3 separate regions of the Homo sapiens genome follow, and regions 1 and 3 are each linked to region 2. The links come from fine-mapping of genetic effects on gene expression. A gene starts in region 2. Each other region holds a variant in brackets. All regions are shown on one strand. Distances are from middle to middle.

Region 1 (8,326 bases), 280 kb before region 2:
AGTGGATCCAAGAGCCCCAGTTCTAGAGCCCAGATGCCCTCACCTTGTGAGAACTGAGGACAGTCTTCAGCTCCTCCAAGAGTCCGTGCGCCAGCTTAAAGCCCCCAAGAGAGGACAGCAGCTTCCGAACTGTCTGCTGAGCCTGCCTGCGGACGTGCCAGGTGCGGCTCAGGAGCACCGCCACCAGAGCCCGGTGGTACTGCCTGCAAGCACAGGGACAGACAGGTCTGGGGGAAGGCCAAGAGCAGGGCTTTCCACAGCCAACCCTTCCACCTGCCACACACCCTTTCTCGGGTTCCTGCCAGCCTTTGCCTCATTTGGCCCAAAAGAAAAGGTAAGCCAGCCTCACGTACTGAACTTTGTTGCCAGTGAGTCTATGCGGGTGGTCAAGGAAAAGTCTCTCTGTCAGATGCAACACAGTACACAGGGCTTGGAGGGAAGAAAAGGAATGGAAGTGTTTTTAAAATAGTTAAGTGTACACATACATACCAATACCCAGAAATAACTGGAATGAACTGAAAATTAACACCAAAATATAAATGTGATTATCACTCGAAGTGAAATTACAGCTTGTTTTTTTTTTTTTGCTTATGCACACATGTATTTTGGAATCAGTAAAGTATATACTATTTTTATTTATTTTATATATAATATACACACATATACACATATATACACATATATATACATATACATATATACACATATATACACACACACACACACACACACACACACACACACATATATATATATATATTTTTTTTTTTGAGAGACAGTCACGCTCTGTCGCCCAGGCTGGAGTGCAGTGGCACGATCTCAGGGCTTACTGCAAGCTCCGCCTCCCAGGTTCACACCATTCTCCTGCCTCGGCCTCTCGAGTAGCTGGGACGACAGGCACCCGCTAATTTTTTTATATTTTTTAGTAGAGACTGGGTTTCACCATGTTAGCCAGGATGGTCTCGATCTCCTGGCCTCGTGATCCACCTGCCTCAGCCTCCCTAAGTGTTGGGATTACAGGCGTGAGCCACTGCACCAGGCCAAATTTTGTATTTTTAGTAGAGACGGGGTTTCACCAGGTTGGCCAGGTTGGACTTGAACTCCTGACCACAGGTGATCCACCTGCCTCGGTCTCCCAAAGTGCTAGGATTACAGGCGTGAGCCACCGCACCTAGCCTATTTTTACTTTTTTTGAGACAGAGTCTCGCTATGTTGCCCAGGCTACAGTGCAGTGGTGCAGTCTTGGCTCACTACACCCTCCGCCTCCCAGGTTCAACTAATTCTCCTGCCTCAGCCTCCTGAGTAGCTGGGATTACAGAAGCCCACCAGCAAGCCTGGCTAATTTTTTTTTTTCTATTTTTAGTAGAGACGAGGTTTCACCATGTTGGCCAGGATAATTCTGAACTCCTGACCTCAAGTGATCAGTCCACTTCAGCCTCTCAAGGTGCTAGGATTACAGGCATGAGCCACCATGCCAGGCCTATGTATTTTGTTTTCGTTGTTGTTGTTGTTGTTTTGAGACGGAGTCTTGCTCTGTCACCCAGGCTGGAATACAATGGTGCAATCTCGGCTTACTGCAACCTCCGCCTCTTGGGTTCAAGAGATTCTCCTGCCTCAGCCTCCCGAGTAGCTGGGATTACAGGCACCTGCTACCACGCCCAGCTTATTTTTGTATTTTTATTAGAGACAGGGTTTCACCATGTTGGCCAGGATAGTCTCGATCTCGACCTCATGATCTGCCCGCCTCGGCCTCCCAAAGTGCTGGGATTACAGGCGTGAGCCACCGTGTCCGGCCCCAGCCTATTTTTTTTTAATAATTAAAAATTACGGCCAGGCACAGTGGCTCACGCCTGTAATCCCAGCACTCTGGGAGGCCAAAGCAGGCAGGTCACCTGAAGTCAGGAGTTCGAGACCAGCCTGGCCAACATAGTAAAACCCCGTCTGTACTAAAAATACAAAAATTAGCCAGGTGTGGTGGTGTGCACCTGTAGTCCCAGCTACTCAAAGAGGCTGAGGCAGGAGAATTGCTTGAACCCGGGAGGTGGAGGTTGCAATGAGCAGAGATTGCACCACTGCACTCCAGCCTGGGCAACAGAGTGAGACTGTCTCAAAAAAAAAAAAAAAAAAAAATGCCTGATCCGGTGGCTCACGCATGTAATCCCAGCACTTTGGGAGGCCAAGGTGGGCGGATCATGAGGTCAGGAGACCAAGACCAGCCTGGCTAACACTGTGAAACCCCATCTCTTCTAAAAATACAAAAAATTAGCCAGGCGTGGCGGCATGCACCTGTAGTCCCAGCTACTCAGGAGGCTGAGGCAGGAGAATGGCGTGAACCCGGGAGGCGGAGCTTGCAGTGAGCTGAGATCGCGCCACTGCACTCCAGCCTGGGCGACAGAGCGAGACTCTGTCTCAAAAAAAAAAAAAAAAAATTACTAAGGCCAGGCACGATGGCTCATGTCTGTAACACCAACACTTTTGGAGGCTGAGGCAGGAGAATTGCTTAAGCCCAGGAGTTCAAGGTCAGCCTGGGCAACATGGTGAAACCCCCGTCTCTTAAAAAAAAATACAAAAATTAGCCAGATGTGGTGGTGTGCACCTGTAGTCCCAGCTACTCAGGAAGCTGAGGTGGGAGGACCACCTGAGACCAGGGAGGTCGAGGCTGCAGTGAGCCATGACTGTGTCACTGCACTCCAGCCTGGGCAACAGAGTGAGATCCTGTCTCAACAACAACAACAACAACAAATTACTATGGAGTTATAAAAAGAGGCCGGGCATGGTGGCTCATGCCTGTAATCCCAGCACTTTGGGAGGCCGAGGCAGGTGGATCACCTGAGGTCGGGAGTTCGAGACCAGCCTGACCAACATGGAGAAACCCCATCTCTACTAAGAAAAAAAAAAACAAAAACAAAATTAGCCTGGTGGTAGTGGCACATGCCTGTAATCCCAGCTACTCAGGAGGCTGAGGCAAGAGAACCGCTTGAACCCAGGGGGAGAGGTTGCGGTGGGCTGAGATCATGCCACTGCACTCCAGCCTGAGCAATAAGAACGAAACTCCATCTCAAAAAAAAAAAAAAAAAAAAGAATGATGAAGTTCATTATATACTGATATGGACTCATTTCCAGGTCTAGAAAGCACAGTACATACGGCAGGCACACTACCATTTGTGTAAAAAAGGTACAGAACAAACATATACAGGTATTTACTTGCATATATATAAAATATCAAGGCTACAGAAGAAGCTAATAAAATTGGTTATCTATAGCCGAGGAACTGGGTAGCCAGAGATCAAAGCAGGGGTATAATTTTCAATGTAGACCCTCTTGTATCTATTTTTGAATTACATTAGTCTATTTCCTTTTCAAAATTTAGCTAAAAATTTTTCTAAAACCAGGAAATGACTAACAGTTGTAGCTCATTAATGGGATGTTGCGATTTATGAGTCAAACGACTCTTCAAATCACCAATTAGTGGCAGACACTCCTAAGGCAACGTAGAATATTAAACACATATTTAAAATTCAACTGTTCCTTTTCTGCCAGGATAGAAACCAGTAGTTTTTGTGTCTCTTGGTGGGGGAGTAGAGCCTGCCAGACTCCACAAGAGCTTCTCAGCTGCCTTAACACAAGAAAACCTCCGAGACAGCACCAATTACCCAATCAGCTATAATTACAGCTCATGTCGTAGCTCCACAGCCATTACTGCTCTGTCTCCACACATCTCCCAAGTCCCATTTCCCTAACCTTATGTTCCCTACAGGAATGAATTTATTCCCACAACAGCTAAGCTGTTGGCCAGATCACTCTGGCCCAGGTTTTTGCAGACCTGACTGGTTGGTCAAGAAAGGGTCCTCTCTGAAGATTTTCCAAAGAGACTTTGCCTCAATCCCGAGTTCAACTAAGCATGGAGTAACTTACCATCCTCTGAAGCCATGACCAGGAATTTCTCAGAAGTGAAAACCTGCTTTTTCTCATCCACAATCAACTGCCAGAAACTGCTCAGTTTGGCCTCTGCAAGAAACAAAAGGTTACCCCACGACGCAGCTCACCACATCCCCCAGAGCTGATCTACTCCATCCTGAAGCTGCTGGGGTGGGCTTTGCTGACAAACCCTCCTCTGCAGCAGGAGGCTCAGTGCTCTTCCATTTGGGGAACTGACCTCAGTCCTTCTGGTATCACCTCCTGTACGAAACTCTTCGGTGGCTCTCTGCTGCCTACAGGATCCTAGGTGAACTGCTTCTCATCCGGAATTCCCATCCACCCCAGGCGCCAAGCTGGAATACCTGAGGTTTACAGACTCTGGCTTTCCCTGCCCTTCCCTGACTGGGGCTGTTTGGACTCACACTGGGCCATCCCTTCAGGATAATGAAATCCTTCAGAGGCTTCAGGGTACCAGTTCAAATGCTTCCTCCATGAAGCCCTTCCCAATACCCACCCCCCCAACTAAAAGCAATCTCTCCTTCAAAACTGCTCTAATGCCGCATTTTGTCTTAAGCTACGGATATATTTCTGTATTTCCTCGCGCCTACTGTGAAGTAAGCACCCTGAAATTTGCTGAAGAAGGTCATGTTCATCTTAGCATTCCCCCAGGTAGCCCAGTGCCTTGCATGGCCACAGTGAGCACACGATATTACATGAGGAGAGCTGAGCTCCATTCCTAACCAAAGGAGTTAAGTTCAGGTGTGTCCCAG[T/C]GCAGAGATTGGGAGATGAAATAAAGAAAGCCTGGCCGGGCGCAGTGGCTCACGCCTGTAATCCCAGCACATTGGGAGGCTGAGGTGGGTGGATCACAAGGTGAGGAGATTGAGACCATCCTGGCTAACACGATGAAACCCTGTCTCTACTAAAAATATAAAAAATTAGCCGCGCGTGGCGGCGTAGCGCCTGTAGTCCCAGCCACTCGGAAGGCTGAGGCAGGAGGCGGAGCTTGCAGTGAGTCGAGATCGCGCCACTGCACTCCAGCCTGGGCGACAGAGCGAAACTCCGTCTCAAAAAAAAAAAAAAAAAAAGAAAAAAAAAAAAGAAAAGAAAGCCTGAAATACGATGTAGCCACAAAAAATAATGAGAAAGCTCTTTCTGATGTACTGATTTGGAATCATTTCGAAGATATATTATATATAGTATATATATTATATATTATAAGTAATATGGCATATAGCGTATGTTCCCCAGCATGTTCAATTACATAACACACTATGTCTGGACATAAAATTGGTAATACTGTTTTTTCTTTCTTAGACAAAGTCTCACTGTGCCACCCAGGCTGGAGTGCAGTGGAGCAATCCCAGCTCACTGCAACCTACGCCTCCTGGGTTCAAGCGATTCTCCTGCCTCAGCCTCCCGAGTAGCTGAGATTACAGGCATGCGCCACCACACCCAGCTAATTTTTGTACTTTTAGTAAAGACGGGGTTTCACCATGTTGGCCAGAATGGTCTCGAAATCTTGACTTCGTGATCCGCCTGCCTCGGCCTCCCAAAGTGCAAAATTGGTAACACCGTTTACAGAGGGAAACTTAACGGCTACGGGAAAAGACAGGGCTAAGGGGAAGCTTCTCATGTTATATCCTTTTGAATTTTGTACTGTATGAATGTATAACCAACTGAAACAAACAGTCCCAATACTAAACCCTGGTCCATCTAGGTATCATCTACAAGCCTGTGTAGCACTGGAGCAACAGAATGAAGGAGGACAGTGACACAGTCCCCTGACTGCATTCCCACTGCCCATGCAACCATGAGGTTCATCCTGCAGATGACAAGCAAACCTGTGGCTGATCCAGTGTGGTCAGGACCAAGCTAATCCTGAACATCAAGACACACCTCCCAAGGACTCTTGTCAGAGGCCCCTGTCTCTACCATCCTAGACACCTCTGGACTCATACCAGCCTGTGAGTCAGCCACTGACAACTTTAAGAGCAACAAGGCTGCGGCAACCCCTTCAGTGATGGTGGGAACCTGAGTGCTTTGGGAGGCTGCCTTCTCCACTGTCTGGATGAGCAAGGGCAGTAAGTCCAGGGCCTGCAACAGCGTGTCACCTGTGGAGAGAGGACAAGCACCTTAAAGGACATCCTGATCCTTGGAAATGACAGGACTGAGAAAGGATTTATCTAACCAGCTGTGAACCAGACGACTAAAACCCTTCAGTTAATTTTTCAAATATCTCAAAAAGAAGTGAAGTGAAATCAAAACTTAAATCAAACTCTACAGCCACAAAATTAGAGGGAGAAAGATAATCCTTATGGCCAGGTGCGGTAGCTCACGTCTGTAATCCCAGCACTTTGGGAGGCCGAGGCGGGTGGATCACCTGAGGCTGGGAGTTCGAGATCAGCCTGACCAACATGGAGAAACCCCGTCTCTATTAAAAATACAAAATTAGCTGGGCGTGGTCCAGTTATTCAATTGATGGATAAGCAGAGACATTAGGTGTGTTGCTCAAGGTCACACGGCTAGTTGAGGCAAGTCAGAGCCACCCTCAATCCTGTCAATTCCCATCTGGTACTCTTCCCCCATACAGATGACCTTCGGACCCAAATTCTAAATTTGGGTCCAAATCTGCTGACCTCTGAACTAAACTCTTTTAAAAAAAAAAGGAAGCCAAGCACAGTGGCTCATGCCTGTAATCCCAGCACTTTGGCAGGCTGAGGCGGGGGGGATCATGAGGTCAGGAATTCCAGACCAGCCTGACCAATATGGTGAAACCCTGTCTTAGCCGGGTGGGGTGGTGCACGCCTGTAATCCCAGCTACTCAGGAGGCTGCAGCAGGAGAATCGCTTGAACCCAGGAGGCGGAGGTTGCAGTGAGCCGAGATTGTGCCATTGCACTCCAGCCTGGGTGACAGAACGAGACCCCATCTCCAAAAAAAAAAAAAAAAAGAGAAACCAGTTAAAACTATAGTTTGGCTGGGCACGGTGGCTCATGCCTATAATCCCAACACTCTGGGAGGCTGAGGCGAGCAGATCACCCGAGGTCAGGAGTTCAAGACCAGCCTGGCCAACATGGCAAAACCCTGTCTCTATTAAAAAATACAAAAATTAGCCAGGCATGGTGGTGGGCATCTGTAATCCCAGCTACTCAGGAGGCTGAGGTTGGAGAATCGCTTAAACCCAGGAGGCGGAGGTTTCAGTGAGCTGAGATCGCACCACTACACTACAGCCTGGGTGACAGAGAGAAACTCCATCTCAAAAAAAAAACTATAGCTCAAGCACATGTTTTCTTCCCCCCTACCCCAACACCTTGGTTTGTTGTTCCATGTTTCCATAGCTACTAAATGGGTACATCAGAACATTTCACAATGAAAGCAGTTTCCCAGATAATGTTTTATACTTGAATCCAAGAAATCTTTATTACAGAGGTTTATTTTCGTTTTGTTTTTAAAAGGTTTATTTTATATTATGTTTATTTTAAAAGCAATGAGCATTGAGTTCTGGCACTCTGCATTCCTTTTTTAAAAAATAAATTAAAAATAAATGCAACGAGCAGAACTAGCTCAAGCTGAAGAGACTAGGTAAAACCAAGTTTTTGCCATCTACAATTCAAAGTCCCACCTACAACTGATGGTCATTCAATGCAGCAATAATGCAAACTGATATATATAGTACATAGACTTTTTATATAATTTTTGGTAGAGACAGAGTCTTGCTATGTTTCCCTGCCTGATCTTGAACTCCTGGGCTCAAGCAATCCCGCTGCCTCAGCCACCTGTGTAGCTGGGACCACAGGCATGTACCACCATGCCCAGCTATTTTTTTAATTTTTTTGTAGAGATGGGGGTCTCACTTTGTTGCCCAGGCTGGTCTCAAACTCCTGGGCTCAAGCAATCCTCCCACCTCAGCCTCCCAAAGTGTTGGGATTACAGGCGTGAGCCAGCTCGCCTGCCTCATAGACTGTTTTTAAGTCATGGATGTGAGTTCACTATATCCCTAAGGCAGCTGAAAATGTATTGAGCGTACATTTCTACCCATGGAAAATCTATGACTTCAATCAGCACTACCTGTGGTTTGAATAAACCTCACAAACCACTGCACAAAGATGATCTATGATTCTGAGCTGGGAGACATATTTCAGAAAAAGATATATTGCTTTCAAATCAGTGCAAAAATCTCTTATGGTCAGATTCTTCTTCCCTTATCATTAAAAGAAATATGTGAGTACAAAGTTCATCAGACAAGACATTTCACACAGAAGGGGGTCCCCTCCCAAGAGGAGGCCCTGGAATCTCCTAGATGTTTCTTTTTCTTTTTTGAGACAGAGTATCACTCTGTCACCCAGGCAGGAGTGCAATGGCTTGATCTCGGCTCACTGCAACCTCTGCCTCCTGGGCTCAAGCGATTCT
Region 2 (8,326 bases):
TTTCAGTAGACACAGGGTTTCACCATGTTAGCCAGGATGGTCTCGATCTCCTGACCTCGTGATCCACCCGCCTCAGCCTCCCAAAGTGCTGGGATTACAGGCGTGAGCCACCGTGCCTGGCCTCGAATGTGTCAAGTTCTTACTTTGAGGTAATCTCCTTCAGGGCTGGTAGGGTCAGAAATCTTAAGAGAAACAAAGGGAGCGTGACACATTTCTGCTTATTGGCTTTTCTGTGGAATTAAAACTATCCTGCTTTAATGGATAGTAAATGGTAGTAGTAGTAGTTACAAAACCACTCTGAGAGGGCAATTATTATTATTATTATTATTATTATTTTTTTTTTTTTTTTTTTTTTTTTGAGATGGAGTCTCGCTCTGTCGCCCAGGCTGGAGTGCAGTGGCGGGACCTCGGCTCACTGCAAGCTCCACCTCCCGGGTTCACGCCATTCTCCTGCCTCAGCCTCCCAAGTAGCTGGGACTACAGGCGCCCGCCACTACGCCCGGCTACTTTTTTGTATTTTTAGTAGAGACAAGGTTTCACATGTTGGCCAGGCTGGTCTTGAACTCCTAACCTCAGGTGATCTGCCCACCTCAGCCTCCCAAAGTGCTAGGATTACAGGTCTGAGCCACTGTGCCTGGCCAGAGCTGGTTTATTTTATTTTATTTTATTTTTTGAGACAGAGTTTCGCTTTTGTTGCCCAGGCTGGAGTGCAATGGCATGATCTTGGCTCACCACAACCTCCACCTCCCAGGTTCAAGCAATTCTCCTGCCTCACCCTCCTGAGTAGCTGTGATTACAGGCATGTGCCACCACACCTGGCTAATTTTTTGTATTTTAAGTAGAGATGGGGTTTCTCCATGTTGGTCAGGCTAGTCTCAAACTCCCAACCTCAGGTGATCTGCCCACCTCAGTCTCCCAAAGTGCTGGGATTACTGGCGTGAGCCACCGCGCCCAGCCAGCTGGTTTATTCTTAAGGCTCAAAGGAACACTTTCGTGGTAAGGTTCAAGAGGCAACAAGGTATTTCATATTATATTACATTAAACTGGTAACGCAAAAGTAAGGCATATACAGTACGGAATAGAGAATCTCATTGTCTTTGCCATTTTGTAATAATTAACGGAATAGAGAATCTCATTGTCTTTGCCATTTTGTAATATTACAGCCTGCACTTCTGAGTCCCTATAGAGCTGTTTTGGTTGTGGCCAGTCTGAGTTTAGGACAGATGCATTATACTTCAGCTTGCTGCCTGGCCTCCCTTGGCTGGGTTCCAAACATCTTTTATAATCCTTGGATAATGGACCCTAGCCAGTCATAAAATATAAATGAAGAATGTTTTGAAATGACATTAAGGACAAGTCACATTAAATATGATGTAGCAATTGGTAAAGTGGAGAAAAGACAATAGAATTAGGGCCTTCTATAAATCAAGTTTCTTGGTTTATTTTTCAGACAGGGTCTTGCTGTGTCACCCAGCCTGGAGTGCAGTGGTACAATCACAGCTCACTGCAGTCTCCACCTCTCAGGCTCAGGTAATTCTCCCACCTCAGCCTTTAGAGTAGCTGGGACTACAGGCACACACCACCATACCCAGCTAATTTTTTTGTAGAGACAGGGTTTCGCTATGTTGCCCAGGCTGGTCTCAAATTCCTGAGCTCAAGTGATCCGCCCATCCCAGCTTCCCAAAGTGTTAAGACTACAGGCATGAGCCACCATACCCGGCCTGTAATTCAAGTTTCATACTACTTTGGGTATCTAATAAAACCAAATTACTCAATTAATTGTGGGGATTACGTGACATTCTGAGGTAAGTAAGTGCTCTCCTGATCCTTTTTTGGTACCGTAGTGTATTTGTATAGCCTATTGTGGAAATTTTAGAAATCAGTGAGGTTTTGGCTGGGTGCGGTGGCTCATGCCTGTAATCCCAGCACTTCGGGAGGTCAAGAGTTCAAGACCAGCCAACATGGTGAAACCCCATCTCTACTAAAAATACAAAAACTAGCTGGGCATGGTGATGCATGCCTGTAATCCCAGCTACTTGGGAGACTGAGGCAGGAGAATCATTGGAACCCAGGAGGTGGAGTTTGCAGTAAGACAAGATTGCGCCACTGCACTCCAGCCTGGGTGACAGAACCAGACTGTCTCAAAAAAAAAAAATGTGAGGTTTCTGATTGCCATACTGTACCACCTAGCTTAAGACAAGTCACTTTTTCTTCACCTTTAAGTTACAAAACACAAAACTCTCCCCACTGTATATATGAGGTTTGTAGGGTAACAGGGTAATAGTTCCATAAAATGCACTGAGTTCCAGAGGCAAATAATGATAGAAACTAAATGTTACAATTTATTCCATCTTCAGGATTACAGACATTACAGGGCAGGATGAGTAAACAAGGCAAATGAAGCGAGCACCTTCAGCTTCCCCCCTACCCCGACATTTAACCAGATGCAGCATTTTGACATTTTTAGGATATGCAGGTTGACAATTCACTGACTTGGGTTGAGAGCTGGCAATAGCAGATCTTTGCAATTTAGGTTCTTCCTCCACAGCTATTCCAAGTATCTTAATTCCTGAACTGCACACTGAGAGCTCTGAAATGGTGTTCACTGCAACATTCTTGCAGCTTTCACATCTTAATCTGACACCTCTTGTGAAGGCAGGGAACTGTGTTAAAAGCTGTCTTCCTCTTTGCTAATCCAGGCCACCATCAATCTTAACCATTAGTTACTATATAAAAATAAAAGTGTGCTCAAAAGCACTCACTGAAACTGTTGTGCCCAGATCCCTTTTCAGAGCATTAGTTCCCTGAGAGGAAAAAAAGAGGTCCTAACCAATTGCTTTCATAAATAGTGACCCCAGTACAGTGTATATGTCTTTTGCAGCAGAAATCAAGAGGTCAGGCAGCTCTGCTCATCCTGACTAGTTTATCATCGTTTGCATACAAGGTATATTTATGTAAAGCTGATTCCACGCCAAGTATTGCAACCATAATCTCAAAAAAATTGTTCAATTTTAGCACACAGTTCCTGCAAGATACCACAGCAGGTGAGAAATCATCTCAAAGAGTTCATCTTTTACAACTGAGAGGAAAACATCGAAGGAGGAAATAAAACTCCTCTCTCCTAAGTTCCTCATCAAATCTGATGGCTATGTTCACAGAGTTAGTTGACAAAAATCCAGAGTCCTCAATTTCTGGACTTGCGAAATCCTTCAAGGTGACTGTCAAGGTCAAGAAGAATTTTCAGGCTTTTCTTTGCCATGGCCCATGAACTCCAGTCCTTCAATAGGAATCTCTTTCTCCTTTATTGCTTTCTGGTAGGAGGAGAAAACACATTATAAAGACCTACATGAAGCTTAAGTTGCAAGCTTTGTAAATAAAATATGACAGTACAAAAGTAAAATCAAGCTGATTATAAAGACTTATAACCATGATTCAAACCACATACTTTTTAAAAAACAAGTACCGGTCAGGTGTGGTGGCTCACGCCTATAATCGCAGCATTTTGGGAGACCAAGGCAGGTGGATCACTTGAGGCCAGAAGTTAGAGACCAACCTGGCCAACATGGCGAGACCCTGTTTATACTAAAAATACAAAAATTAGCTGGGCATGGTGGCGCATGCCTGTAAGCCCAGCTACTCGGGTGGCTGAGGCATGAGAATAGCTTGAACCTGGGAGGCGGAGGTTGCAGTGAGCTGAGATTGTGCCATTGCACTCCAGGCTGGGAGACAGAGTGAGACTCTGCCTCAAAAATAAATAAAAACCAGAAGTACCATAATGAATAAATCAAGTGTAAGACCTGAGGGAGACTGGAAAAGGAGTTGTGAGGGAACCGTTAAAATTAAGTGAAATTTGAAAAATAATCATCACTTTGTGTTAGTGAAAGACTTAGGTTCAAATCTGGGTTCCAGGACTTACTGGCTATGTGACTAACTGTAAATGGGATGAAGACAGCAACTACCTCGGGGAATTGCTGTGAGGATGTGTTGGGTTAACTTATTGGAAGTGCTTTGCCCGGTGCTGTTCTTAACAATTCAAAGCAGTTCCACATCCATTGGGCCAGAATAAACATTTCCTGGCTGCAGTTGCGGGGACTGGTCAAGAGAGAGAAACAGGCTAACGAAGGGTTTATAACAACAAAAAAATGTGACCCTCCAGTCTGAATTCTGAAGTATAATCCCGCCCAGACCCCAGCAGTAATAGTGGAAAAGTGCACCACCTGCGAAAGAACCAAGGAAACCTGATGCTAGTGAACTCGGATTAATCACTTCCTATTTCTGGGTGTTAGTTTTTTATGTATAAAATATGAGTAACTATGCCCACCTTGCGAGTTTAGGGTGAACACCAAATGAACCAAAGGATGTGACTGTGCTTCTTGAAAAGCACTGCCCCAATATTTGTCATTCGGAGAGACACCCAAGTGGCCTCGGTGGTGATGGTAGGGGAGCGAGCTCCTGCCACTGGCCTCACTGCGACTTTTCTCCACCCTTCCAGTCCAGTCCCAATCCCCGTAAAATACGATGAGTGTGGTGGGACACAGCGCCGAGAATGCAGGGCCTGGGAACAGAGGCGGGAGGGCTCACCTGAACACACTGCTGGTAGCGCTTGAAGAGGTCGGTGCACGGGTCCCCGGAGCTGTCCCCCTTGAGAAATTTCTCGGCGAACCAGCGATTGAAGCACTGGTCGTACTCGCGCTTCATGTCCGTGCATGCCTCCCCCACACTGTTCATGGCGACAGTGGTGGCGGCGGCGACGACGGCGCACTCTGATGTCATCACTCTCAGGCGCGTCGCTCGGCGTTACGCGCGGGCGCACTGCGGGGGCCAAGGAAGGAAGAAATGTGGTCGCGGTTGGTGTGGCTGGGCCTTCGGGCCCCTCTGGGCGGGCGCCAGGGCTTCACCTCCAAGGCGGATCCTCAGGTAAAGGCCAGGGCCATCTAGGCGGGTGGCGGAGCAAGCCGGGAGGCACTTCGGAGCGCCGGTGACCCACACTCCCCGCCTCATCCCTCCTCCAGGGCAGTGGCCGGATCACGGCTGCGGTGATCGAGCACCTGGAGCGTCTAGCGCTTGTGGACTTCGGCAGCCGCGAGGCAGTGGCGCGACTGGAGAAAGCTATCGCCTTCGCCGACCGGCTACGCGCCGTGGACACAGACGGGGTGGAGCCCATGGAATCGGTCCTGGAGGACAGGTAAACTCGCGGCTGCAGCCCCGAAGCCTTGACCGTGGCCCGTTCGCAGCCGTTTAATGTGACGATTAGCGAACAGTTTTCCAGGGGGTTAAAGAGTGTTAGCAAGATTCAGGAACTTGCCCACAGTCACCTCGCGAGTCAGTGGCTTCACTCTTCCCCTTGTTCATTACTGATGCTCTCGCTAGTGTAAGTGGAAACAAAACCCGAACTGCTAATCACTGCCTTTGTTTTTTTTTTTGTTTGTTTGTTTTGTTTTTTTTTTTTTGAGACGGAGTCTCGCTGTGTTGCCTAGGCTGGAGTGCAGTGGCTCGATCTCGGCTCACTGCAACCTCCGCCTCCCGTGTTCAAGCAATTCTCTGCCTCAGCCTCCCGAGTAGCTGGGATTACAGGCGACTGCCACCAGGCCCGGCTTATTTTTTTTGTATTTTTAGTAGAGACGTGGTTTCACCATCTTGGCCAGGTTGGTCTTGAACTCCTGACCGTGATCCACCCGCCTCGGCCTCCCAAAGTGCTGGGATTACAGGTGTGAGCCACCGCGCCTGGCCTAATCATCGCCTTTAAGGCCCTACTCCATAGAGTCCCTACCTACTCACTCCAACGTACTCTTCTCAGTACTCTCCTTGGCTACCTTGACTGCTTCTCCAGCAAGACAAGTTCTTTTCCTCTCTAGATCTCTGCACTGGCCCTTCGTTTTTTTCCTTCCTCTCAGTATTTGCATGGCTGCCTCCCTCTTGGCACAGGTCTCAGCTTATCTTCTCAGAAAGGGCTCTCCTAACCACTCCAAATCCCTTCTCCCCTTCTAGTTAGTAACTCATCCTATTGGGTTTTTTCCCTAACATTTTAATGGACTTTTGTTCATTTGTTATATCTCTTTTATTAAAATGTGAGCTCATTATGTAGTTACTGTTTTATTCCTGCCTTGAATTTTTATTTTATTTGTTTTTGAGATGGAGTCTCACTCTATCACCCAGGTTAGAGTGCAGTGGCATGATCTCAGCTCATTGTAATGTCCACCTCCCAGACTCAAGAGAGCCTCCCATCTCAGCCTCCCAAGTACAGGACCACAGGCGCGTGCCACTTGGCCTGGCTAATTTTTTGTATTTTTGATAGAGACGGGATTTTGCCATGTTCCCCAGGCTTGTCTGGACTCCTGAGCAAAGGTGATCCACCCATCTCAGCCTCCTAAAGTACTGGGATTACAGGCATGAGCCACAGCACCTGGCCGTGTTTGATTCTTTCAAATGTCTTCTCTACTTTGCAATTTTCTTTTTCCTTTGGGACGGGGTCTCACTATGTTGCCCAGGCTGGTCGCAAACTTCTAGACTCAAGAGATCCTCCTGCCTCAGCCTCCCAAATAGCTGGGACTATAGGTGTGCACCACCACACCTGGCTAATACTTAAAATTTTTGTAGAAACGGGGTCTTGCCATGTTGCCCCATATGGTCTCAAACTCCTGGTCTCAAGCAATCCTCCTGCCTCAGCCTCCCACTTCCTCAAGAAAGTTTTTTTTTTTTTTTGAGGTGGAGTCCTGCCCCATCACCCAGGCTGGAGTGCAGTGGCATGATCTTGGCTCACTGCAACCTCCACCCTCCAGGTTCAAGTGATTTTTGTGCCTCAGCCTCCGGAGTAGCTGGGATTACAGGCACCCGCCACCACACTCAGCTAGTTTTTGCATTTTTAGTAGAGACAGGGTTTCACCATGTTGACCAGGCTGGTCTCGAACCCCTGGCCTCAAGTGATCCGCCCATCTTCGCCTCCCAAAGTGCTGGGATTACAGGTATGAGTCACTGCACTGGCCAAAAAAGTCCATTCCTTTTTTTTTTTTTTTTTTTTTGAGACGGAGTTTCACTCTTCCACCCAGGCTGGAGTACAGTGGTGCAATCTCAGCTCACTGCAACCTCCACCTTCCGGTTTCAAGTGATTCTCTTGCCTCAGCCTCCCGAGTAGCTGGGACTACAGGCGCCCGCCACCACGCCCAGCTAATTTTTGTATTTTTAATAGAGACGGGGTTTCACCATGTTGGCCAGGCTGGTCTCGAACTCATGACCTCACAGTCCACCCGCCTCGGCCTCCCAAAGTGCTGGGATTATAGGCGTGAGCCACAAGTCTTCATTCTTTTATACTTAGGTTCTTTTTTTTTTTTTTTAATTGAGACAAGAGTCTCGCTCTGTCGCTGAGGCTGGAGTGCAGTGGCGTGATCTTGGCTCACTGCAAGTTCCGCCTCCTGGGTTCATGCCATTCTCCTGCCTCAGCCTCCCAAGTAGCTGGGTCTACAAGTGCCCACTACCACGCCTGGCTAATTTTTTGTATTTTTAGTAGAGATGAGGTTTCACCGTAGCCAAGATGGTCTCGATCTCCTGACCTCGTGATCTGCCCACCTCAGCCTCCCAAAGGTGCTGATTACAGGCGTGAGCCACTGTGCCTGGCTATACTTAGGTTCTCTACCTGTGGCTCTCGTGATATCCAAAAGGGCTGATTTATACATGCGTTTATACATCTATTTAAGGGATGTGTTGAGTCTCTGCCCCTCTCCTGCTCACCCACCTTCCACAGCATGTCTGTTTTTCCTTATCATGTTCTCAGTGGTTGGCACTGAGTATTCAGTAAATGTGTTTTGTTTTGTTTTGTTTTGTTTTTTTGAGATGGAGTCTCACTCTGTTGCCCACGCTGGAGGCAGTGGCGTGATCTCGGCTCACTGCAACCTCTGCCTCCTGGGTTTGAGATTCTCTTGCCTCAGCTTCCCGAGCACCCGGGATTACAGGCATGCACCACCATGCCTGGTTAATTTTTGTATTTTTAGTAGAGAGGGGTTTCACCATGTTGGCAAGGCTCGTCTTGAACTCCTGACCTCAGGTGATCTGCCTGCCTCAGCCTCCCAAAGTGCTGGGAATACAGCCTTGAGCTGCCGTGCCCGGCCACAGTAAATGTTTAATGAATTTTTTTTTTTTTAGAGACAGAGTTTTGCTCACGTTGCCCAGGCTGGAGTGCAATGGCGCGATCTCAGCTCACCACAACCTCTGCCTCCCAGGTTCAAGCGATTCTCCTGCCTCAGCCTCCCAAGTAGCTGGGATTACAGGTGCACGCCACCACGCCCAGCTAATTTTGTATTTTTAGTAGAGACAGGGTTTCTCCATGTTGGTC
Region 3 (8,326 bases), 260 kb before region 2:
GTAAGGACTTCTGTATGGTGGGCAGTATCAGATCCTTAAATTCTGAGTGGGACAGGTATCGGAGCAGAGGGGCACAGCTATCCTACAAAGAAAAAGGAATAAGGCACCTAGCCCTCATGGGAACGGACCAAGAAGCAAAAAAGAGTTCAGCATCCCAGAATTGAAAATGGGATCAGTTGTCCAGGTGAGTAACGTCCACCTCTCGCTCACCAACAGGTACTTCGGAGGCTTGACTTTGCTCATCAGGATGTTCTTCATGTAAAAGTCCAGTAGGGCGCTCTAGAGAACACAAAGCTCTGGTTAGATCCTGACATTCTCAAGTATCTCATCACTGGCCTAAGGGGTCCCTCTTGTGAGAGTGCCTCCAAAAAATACAAATCAATGCCCCAAATTTCAGTGTTAAGCATAGAGGTCCCACTGATCACGCAACCCCACTTAAAACCCTTCCACAGCTTTCCATGGCCCCCGGGATAAAGTCCAAAGTCCTTCGTATGGCTTATAAGGTCCTGCCCACCACTCAGCTGGCTGCGTCTCACTCTAACCCATTCCTGCCACTCCAACCCCGCTCGCCTCCTCTCTGTTCCTGCCCACAGGCTGCTTCCTCTGCCCAAAATGCTCTGCCTCACCTCTTGACCTTGCTAATTCCTCTTCACTCTCAAAGTTCCTTCTTTAGAGTGATGTGTTCTCTGACCCACAGCCTAAATCAGGTCCTTCCGTTGTGGAGTCTCACGACTTCTCACACTTTCCCTTTGTAGCACATACTAGTTATAATTAGCTAGACTATCTGTTTAATGTCAGTTTCTCAGACTCAGTTCCATGGGGGCAGGGGTCATAGCTCCCTTACTCGCTGGTGTACCCCCAACACCGAGCACAGTGCCTAGAACATGGCAGCCACTAAATTGGGATGAATAAGTGACTGCATGAACAAGCAAACTATCACCCAAGCCAGAAACAGAAGGGAAACTTTCCAGCTCCTAGAAGTTCATGTATCATGGCAAAAGGCCAGAGTCTCACATGAGAAAACCAACAAGTTTCAGATAAGGTCAACAGCTAGGGTCACCAGGGCAAAGCAGGTTCCCATTCCTTCCCTCCAGCGAGCTCCCAACATCCCCAACATAGCAAACCCACAGTCACTCTGCCTTGGCACTTGCCTTGTGCTGACTGACCACGTCCATCTCCTTGTGACTCGTGCAGAACTGCACCAGCAGCCCCAGCATGCCAGCATAGTTCTGGTTGGGCTCTAGGCTGAGAATGGCTGACAAGTACTGTTCCACCAGCCCGGGGTTCTGAAGAGGAAAGTGCCAGGCAGGTGTTTAAGATGGCAGTGGGGGAGTGGCATGGAAGAAGCAATGCCCACCAGCCCCTGCAGTCCTGTCACCTCTTTCCACAGCTTCGTGAGTTTCTTCACAGCACCATCCACGGCGTGCTTGTGGGAGCCACCCAGCACCTCCAGCAAGAGCAGGCACTGCACTTCCACCTGCCAGGACCAGGGAAGACTCAGGTCAAGGTGGGACATGAGACTGAGGGTCCCATGGCTCTCATAGCCTGTAAAGACCTCCATCAGACCCTCCAAATCCTGGCTTCATCTCCACTCAGCCTCTCCCACTCAACTCCAGCCAGCTCCTCTTCCCTCCACCCCACACATTTAGTTCTGTCCTTTAACGACACTGTTCCCACTAGTGTTCGTTTAATAAATATTTGGTGATCACCTATTATGAATCAGACAATGAAGGCACAAGGGGAGGAAGACAGACATGGTCCCTGCTTTTTTTTTTTAAGACGGAGTCTCGCTCTGTCGCCAGGCTGGAGTGCAGTGGCACAATCTCGGCTCACTGCAACCTCCACCTCCCGGGTTCAAGTGATTCTCCCGCCTCAGCCTCCCAAGTAGCTGGGACTACAGGTGCGTGCCACCATGCCCAGCTAATTTTTTTTTTTTTTTTTTTTGAGACAGAGTCTCGCTCTGTCGCCCAGGCTGGAGTGCAGTGGTGCGATCTCAGCTCACTGCAAGCTCCGCCTCACGGGTTCACACCATTCTCCTGCCTCAGCCTCCCGAGTAGCTAGGACTACAGGTGTCCACCACCATGCCCACCTAATTTTTTGTATTTTTAGTAGAGACGGGGTTTCACCATGTTAGCCAGGATGGTCTCGATCTCCTGACCTCATGATCCGCCCGCCTCGGCCTCCCAAAGTGCTGGGATTACAGGCGTGAGCCACTGCGCCCAGCCGGTCCCTGCTTTCATGTACCTTAGAATTCAGAGGAAAAAAGAGATATTAAACAAATAAATACACAAATGAACATACAATTTCAGTGAGGTTTAAGTGCCATGCAGGTAAAGAATTAAGGGTCCTGTTTCATTTACTTCTTATCTGCCTTGACCTGTCCTTCATTAATTCCACAAATACTTACTGACCACTGCATGGCAGGCTCTATGCTGAGCACTGTGAATACAGAAGTGCATCTTGATATGGGGATTCGAACTGCATGGAGCTCACACCGTCCAACCCAGATTGACATACATAATAGGTCCTTGACTAAAAAAATCTCAGAGGCTGCCAGGCCTAGTGGCTCACACCTGTAATCCCAGCACTTTGGGAGGCCGAGGCAGGCAGATCACCTGAGGTCGGGAGTTCAAGACCAGTCTGACCAACATGGAGAAACCTCATCTCTACTAAAAATACAAAATTAGCTGGGTGTGGTGGCGCATGCCTGTAACCAAGCTACTCGGGAGGCTGAGGCAGGAGAATTGCTTGAACGCAGGAGAATCGCTTGAACCCAGGAGGCAGAGGTTGCGGTGAGCCGAGATCACGCCTTTGTACTCCAGCCTGGGCAACGAGAGCGAAACTCCATCTCAAAAAATAAAGGCCAGGTGCAATGGTTCACGCCTGTAATCCCAACACTTTGGGAGGCTGAGGCAGGCGGATCACAAGGTCAAGAGATCGAGACCATCCTGGCCAACATGGTGAAACCCTGTCGCTACTAAAAATACAAAAATTAGCCGGGTGTGGTGGCAGGCGCCTGTAGTCCCAGCTACTCAGGAGGAAAATCGCTTGAACCCAGGAGGTGGAGTTTGCAGTGAGACGAGATAGCGCCACTGCACTCCAGCCTGGTGACAGAGAAAGACTCTGTCTCAAAAAAAAACAAACAAAAATCTCAGAGACTTTATGTGCCATAAATGCCCAAGGTCACTAGTGAGTCGTGTGAACTGCCACCCTCAGAAAACAGATATGCTTGTGGCCGGGCGCGGTGGCTCACGCCTGTAATCCCAGCACTTTGGGAGGCTGAGGCGGGCGGATCACGAGGTCAGGAGATCGAGACCATCCTGGCTAACACGGTGAAACCCTGTCTCTACTAAAAATACAAAAAAAATTAGCTGGGCATGGTGGCAGGCGCCTGTAGTCCCAGCTACTCGGGAGGCTGAGGCAGGAGAATGGCGTGAACCCGTGAGGCGGAGCTTGCACTGAGCCGAGATTGCGCCTCACTGCACTCCAGCCTAGGCGACAGAGCGAGACTCCGTCTCAAAAAAAAAAAAAAGAAAAAGAAAAAGCAAGCAAGCAGATATGCTTGTGGAAAGCAATGCTGATAAATTCCATTTGCATGTATACAAAATGGCATATGTACAAGGTTATTCTTTGCAGAACTGTTAGTAACAATAAAAAACCGTAAGCAACAGAGGACTCCCTATATATAGCATAGTATAGAAAGGATTACTGGCTGGGCGTGGTGACTCACACCTATAAACCCAGCACTTTGGAAGACCGCAGCAGGTGGTTCCCTTGAGCCCAGGAGTTCGAGACCAACCCGGGCAACAAAAGAAAACCCCATCTCTAAAAAAATACAAAAATCAGCCAGGCATACACCAGCATGCCTGTAGTCCCAGCTACTCAGGAGGCTGTGACAGAAGGATCGCTTGAGCCCAGGAGGTCAAGGCTGCAGTGAGCTGAGATCATGCCACTGTGCTCCAGCCTGGGTGACAGAGCAAGATCTTTGTCTCAAAAAAAAAAAAAAAAAAAAAGAAGTCTGCAGAATCATGGTGTGTGTATAAAAAAATTTTTTAATACATTTTTTTAAAAGTAGGCTGGGCACGACCAGGTGCAGTGGCTCATGCCTGTAATCCCAGCACTTTGGGAGGCCGAGGCGGGCGGATCACCTGAGGTCAGGAGTTCGAGACCAGCCTGACCAACATAGAGAAACCCCGTCTCTAGTAAAAATACAAAACTAGTCGGGCATGGTGGCACATGCCTGTAATCCCAGCCACTTGGGAGGCTGAGGCAGGAGAATCGCTTGAATCCAGGAGGCAGAGGTTGCGGTGAGCCGAGATCGCGCCATTGCACTCCAGCCTATGCAACAAGAGTAAAACTCCGTCTCAAAAAAAAAAAAAAAAAAAAAAGTAGGCTGGGCACAATGGCTCATACCTGTAATCCCTGCACTTTGGGAGGCTGAGACAGACGGATCACCTGAGGTCAGGAGTTTGAGACTAGCCTGGCCAACATGGTGAAACCCCATCTCTACTAAAAATACAAAAATTAGCCAGGTGTGGTGGCATGCACATATAGTCCCAGTTATACTCAGGAAGCTGAGGGTTGAGAATTGCTTGAGCCTGGGAGGCAGAGGTTGCAGTGAGCCGAGATTGCGCCACTGCATTCCAACCTGAGTGACAGAATTACACTCTGTCTCTCAAAGAAAACAAAAAAAAAAAAACAAAAAAAACCACTCAGTGCAGATAAGCCAATGAGCTTGCCCCTTCTTACAAGGAGGCTTTTGGTAACAATGACACCCATTCCCTGAAGCAAATCCAAGAGAGTCCCAGCTCACAATACGTAATCCTTGACCCTCAAGGTTTCAGCATTCTAATCCATCATCAATCAATTATACTGACAGCCATTCCATGTTTGTCCCCAGAGGTGCGCTGGATAAGCTCCCAGGGATGCAGCCCTCTATCTAACCAGCAGGCTGCTTCATGGAGCGGTACTTGTGTTTCCTAAGGCCGGTCATCACTGGCA[C/T]CTACCTGCCTGGGACTCTCCAGTTTCCACAGTCATCTCAACCCTCAACGAAACCTGGCTTTGCGACAACTCTTTGAGGTGGACAGGGTGAGTAGTATTTTCTTTCCCACTTTGCAAATGAGGAAATGGGCTCAGAAGTTAAGTGACTCAGCCAAGTCTCATGGACAAGAATCAGATCCAAGGCCTGGCAAAGTGGCTCACACCTATAATCCCAACACTTTGGGAGGCCAAGGCAGGCGGATCATCTGAGGTCAGGAGCTCAAGGCCAGCCTGGCCACCATGGAAAAACCCTGTCTCCACTAAAAATACAAAAGAATTAGCCAGGTGTGGTGGCAGGCACCTGTAATCCCAGCCACTCGGGAGGCTGAGGCAAGAGAAACGCTTGAACCCAGGAGGCAGAGGTTGCAGTGAGCCAACACCACTGCACTCCAGCCTGAGCAACAGAGCAAGACTCCGTCTCAAAAAAAAAAAAAAAAAACTACTCCTCATGACCTACACTAAAAAACCACTCCTCATGACCTACACTAAGCCTACCCAGGCACATGTCTGCTCTGCTCACCTCCCAACCTGGTGAGCAGACATGGGGAAAGAAAAAGAAGAGAATATGGAAGGAGCAGGTAGAGAATGGAAAGAGGGAATTTAAGAACCAAAACCAAGACAAAAAATCCATTCCATTCACCAGTTCAACACTGAAATCAAACACAGGGAATGGAATGATCAGCCAGAAAAACACCAAGAGGATTTACACTATGATATTTTCTAGTCTACTTGATTTTTGGCTGTCTTCCCAACTCTGGCCTGTCACGGCTTCCACACATGCCATGAAATCAGGGGCCTCATTTCTGTTGTGCATCACTGCATTTCTAGTGCCTAGCACCATGCCTGACAGAGAAGCTCCAAAATGTCTAATACACCAAACAATGTGATTATGCTGCACTCATGGCCATCCACCAAAGCCACACACCTCGGGACAACTCAGAGTGTCTGGTCACCCAGCACCCAGAAAAGCACTTGGCACCAAGAAGGTGCTGAAACATGCTCTAACTCCTGGCAGAAAGCTGACCCTTGCTACTTCAGAGACACAGGGAACCTACCAGTTTGTTCCAGATGTCTCCTTGTCGCTTGGCTCTCGATGGAAAGACAATGCGCACCAGGAGGCAGGTCCAGGTCAAGGCCAGCAAGGCGGCAGAGCCACTGCTCTTACTGCAGAGCAGAGTTGGGGATGAGTTCAGAGCAGCAGCCTCCACCTTGAGGACGAACACTGTCCCTAAGGCCCCGCCTGGTAATGCAGGACCCTCCCTTCACCTCATGGAACAGAACTTGAAACAAGTTCCCCACAAACCATCTGTGGCAATTCAGGACAAGAAGTCCAGGCTTCAGTGGCCAAACTCCCATCTCTTGGCACTGACAACTATAAAAACAAACAGATGGCTTCCACCATTAGGGGCCTGGTGGGCAACTGGTTCCCCTCAAAATGGCCTTGCTTCCACTGTTTCCCAACCCTGCTCCTCGGGAAAGTGGTTTTCTCCACTAAGCTTGCTATCCTGGCTCCTCCCTCTGGTGCACAGTCAACTGCATCAGCTTCTCCTGAGCAGGACTGTACCAATTCTCAGGGGGCCACAACTTTTACCTCTTACCTGGGAACACCTGCTTTGGAGCCTATACCAGAAGACTGCAGAGAGTGTAGAAGGTTCTTAGCAGTGGCTTCTGGCTGGGCCTCAGCCAACTGCTGGATGGCTGCCTGCAAGGCCCTGCGGGAGGCTGCATCTCTAGGGGGAGAGGCAAAGGAAAGGGTGAACATGCAGACCTCAGGCAGAGGCAGGGGCAAGGCTGCTCAGGCCATACACTGGTCTTTCTCAGGAGAAACTGATCACACCATATTCCAGTGGATAACAGAGAAGGGATTAGGAAATAACTAGATAAACTCACCTCCTCCTAGAGTTCTAAAAGTATCTCATAAGGGCAAATAAGCCATTGAGTGTGTAAGGGCAGCACCTACATTTATGGAGCAGTTATAAGGGTCTCAAAGTAGGCCAGACGATTTAACACACATGACTAAATGGCAGCATAAACACATTGACCACTATGGCACAGCAGGCAACTGTTCCAGGCACCTCACGCTTACTAACAACCACCCATGAGATAGAGAATGGCACCATCCCCATTCTGCAGACAAGGAAACTGAGGCACAGAGAGGTTAAGTAACTTGCCCAGGATCTAATGGCTAGGATGTGACATAGCCCAGATTTGGCACCAGGCAGTCTGGCTCTAATCTGGGCTCTAACCACTACTCTAAATCCCCTCTCTGTACAAAGTGCTCCACATATGGGGCCTTTGGCTGGGACTCACCTATATCGATGCAGAGTCAAGCAGAACAATTTGCAGAGCCCCTTCACTGCTCCCTCTGGAAGATCTGAAACCAGAGATTACACAGACAGCGGTCAATAAAAATCACTTGGTAAGCCGCTGGAGTCAGGTATTCTGCCCAGACATGATCTCAGCCCACTGGACACTCCCCATATATTTAAGACCTTCCTCCCCAAGAGGAAAAAGCAACAACAAAACAGGACTCTAGGAAAATGCCTGGTACAGAAAAGCTTTGGGTAGACATTTGCTAAATGAACGAAACTAAGAAAATAAAAGTGGCCTCGAAACCTCACATGCCATCAAGAGGAGGTTCAGGAGTGCTGGAATGGTTCTACTTCTTGATCTGGGTGCTGGTTATACTGGTGTTTAACATGTGATGATTCAGTGAGCTGTTCCATTAGGAGGCGTACCTTTCTTCACATACATTCTAATAAACGGTTTAAAAAACAGTGCAACACTGAAGTACTATGAGGGACCAGAAAAGGGAAGAACACCTATAACTGGAGTGTTTCTGAAAGTCTGAAGGACACATAAGCTTGGCCTATCAGATTAGTAGGCTCTGGAAAAATGGAAAGAGAGGGAGATACATGTAGAGTGCAGGGTTAAGAAGGCATAATACCTATTCAGAACACATGAAGAAGAAGAGAGGACTAATAACACCCTAGCTCTTAGTGCTTACAAGATGCCAGACCCTGCTCTAGATCATTCATACACATTCACTCATTTAATCCATGTAAGGTGGGCAGTGTTATTAAGGCCCCCCCGCCTTTTATTTTTCAGACGGAGTCTCACTCTATCGCCCCGGCTGGAGTGCAGTAGTGCGATCTCGGCTCACCGCAACCTCCGCCTCCCAGGTTCAAGTGATTCTCCTGCCTCAGCCACATGAGTAGCTGAGACTAAAGGTGCGCACCACCACGCCCAGTTAATTTTTGTATTTTTAGTAGAGACAGGGTTTCAC

Evidence for each region.
Region 1: its variant is fine-mapped to the expression of TRIAP1 in whole blood (TOPMed, PIP above 0.99).
Region 3: its variant is fine-mapped to the expression of TRIAP1 in whole blood (INTERVAL, PIP above 0.99).

Annotation. Positions count from the first base shown.
Region 1 is chr12:120,164,293-120,172,618 of GRCh38, forward strand. It overlaps GCN1 (GCN1 activator of EIF2AK4), which reads right to left. Exons shown (of 58, transcript NM_006836.2): 15 at 5,877-6,029; 16 at 3,916-4,008; 17 at 354-429; 18 at 44-203. Among named protein-coding and RNA genes, the nearest start is that of MIR4498, 13 kb to the left of the region's middle. RefSeq lists an enhancer at 2,640-2,689. The variant T/C (reference allele first, on the strand shown) is at 4,689.
Region 2 is chr12:120,441,645-120,449,970 of GRCh38, forward strand. It overlaps TRIAP1 (TP53 regulated inhibitor of apoptosis 1), which reads right to left and starts at 4,740. Exons shown (of 2, transcript NM_016399.3): 1 at 4,582-4,740; 2 at 2,320-3,311. The coding sequence starts at 4,728. The coding sequence ends at 3,228. GATC (glutamyl-tRNA amidotransferase subunit C) reads left to right here and starts at 4,800. Exons shown (of 4, transcript NM_176818.3): 1 at 4,800-4,917; 2 at 5,013-5,185. The coding sequence starts at 4,837. RefSeq lists enhancers at 3,922-4,769, 4,081-5,280, 4,495-5,044, 4,642-4,936, 4,770-5,615.
Region 3 is chr12:120,177,474-120,185,799 of GRCh38, forward strand. It overlaps GCN1 (GCN1 activator of EIF2AK4), which reads right to left. Exons shown (of 58, transcript NM_006836.2): 3 at 7,351-7,414; 4 at 6,639-6,770; 5 at 6,096-6,204; 6 at 1,379-1,477; 7 at 1,152-1,286; 8 at 211-279; 9 at 1-82. Among named protein-coding and RNA genes, the nearest start is that of GCN1, 13 kb to the right of the region's middle. RefSeq lists an enhancer at 6,734-7,933. The variant C/T (reference allele first, on the strand shown) is at 5,002.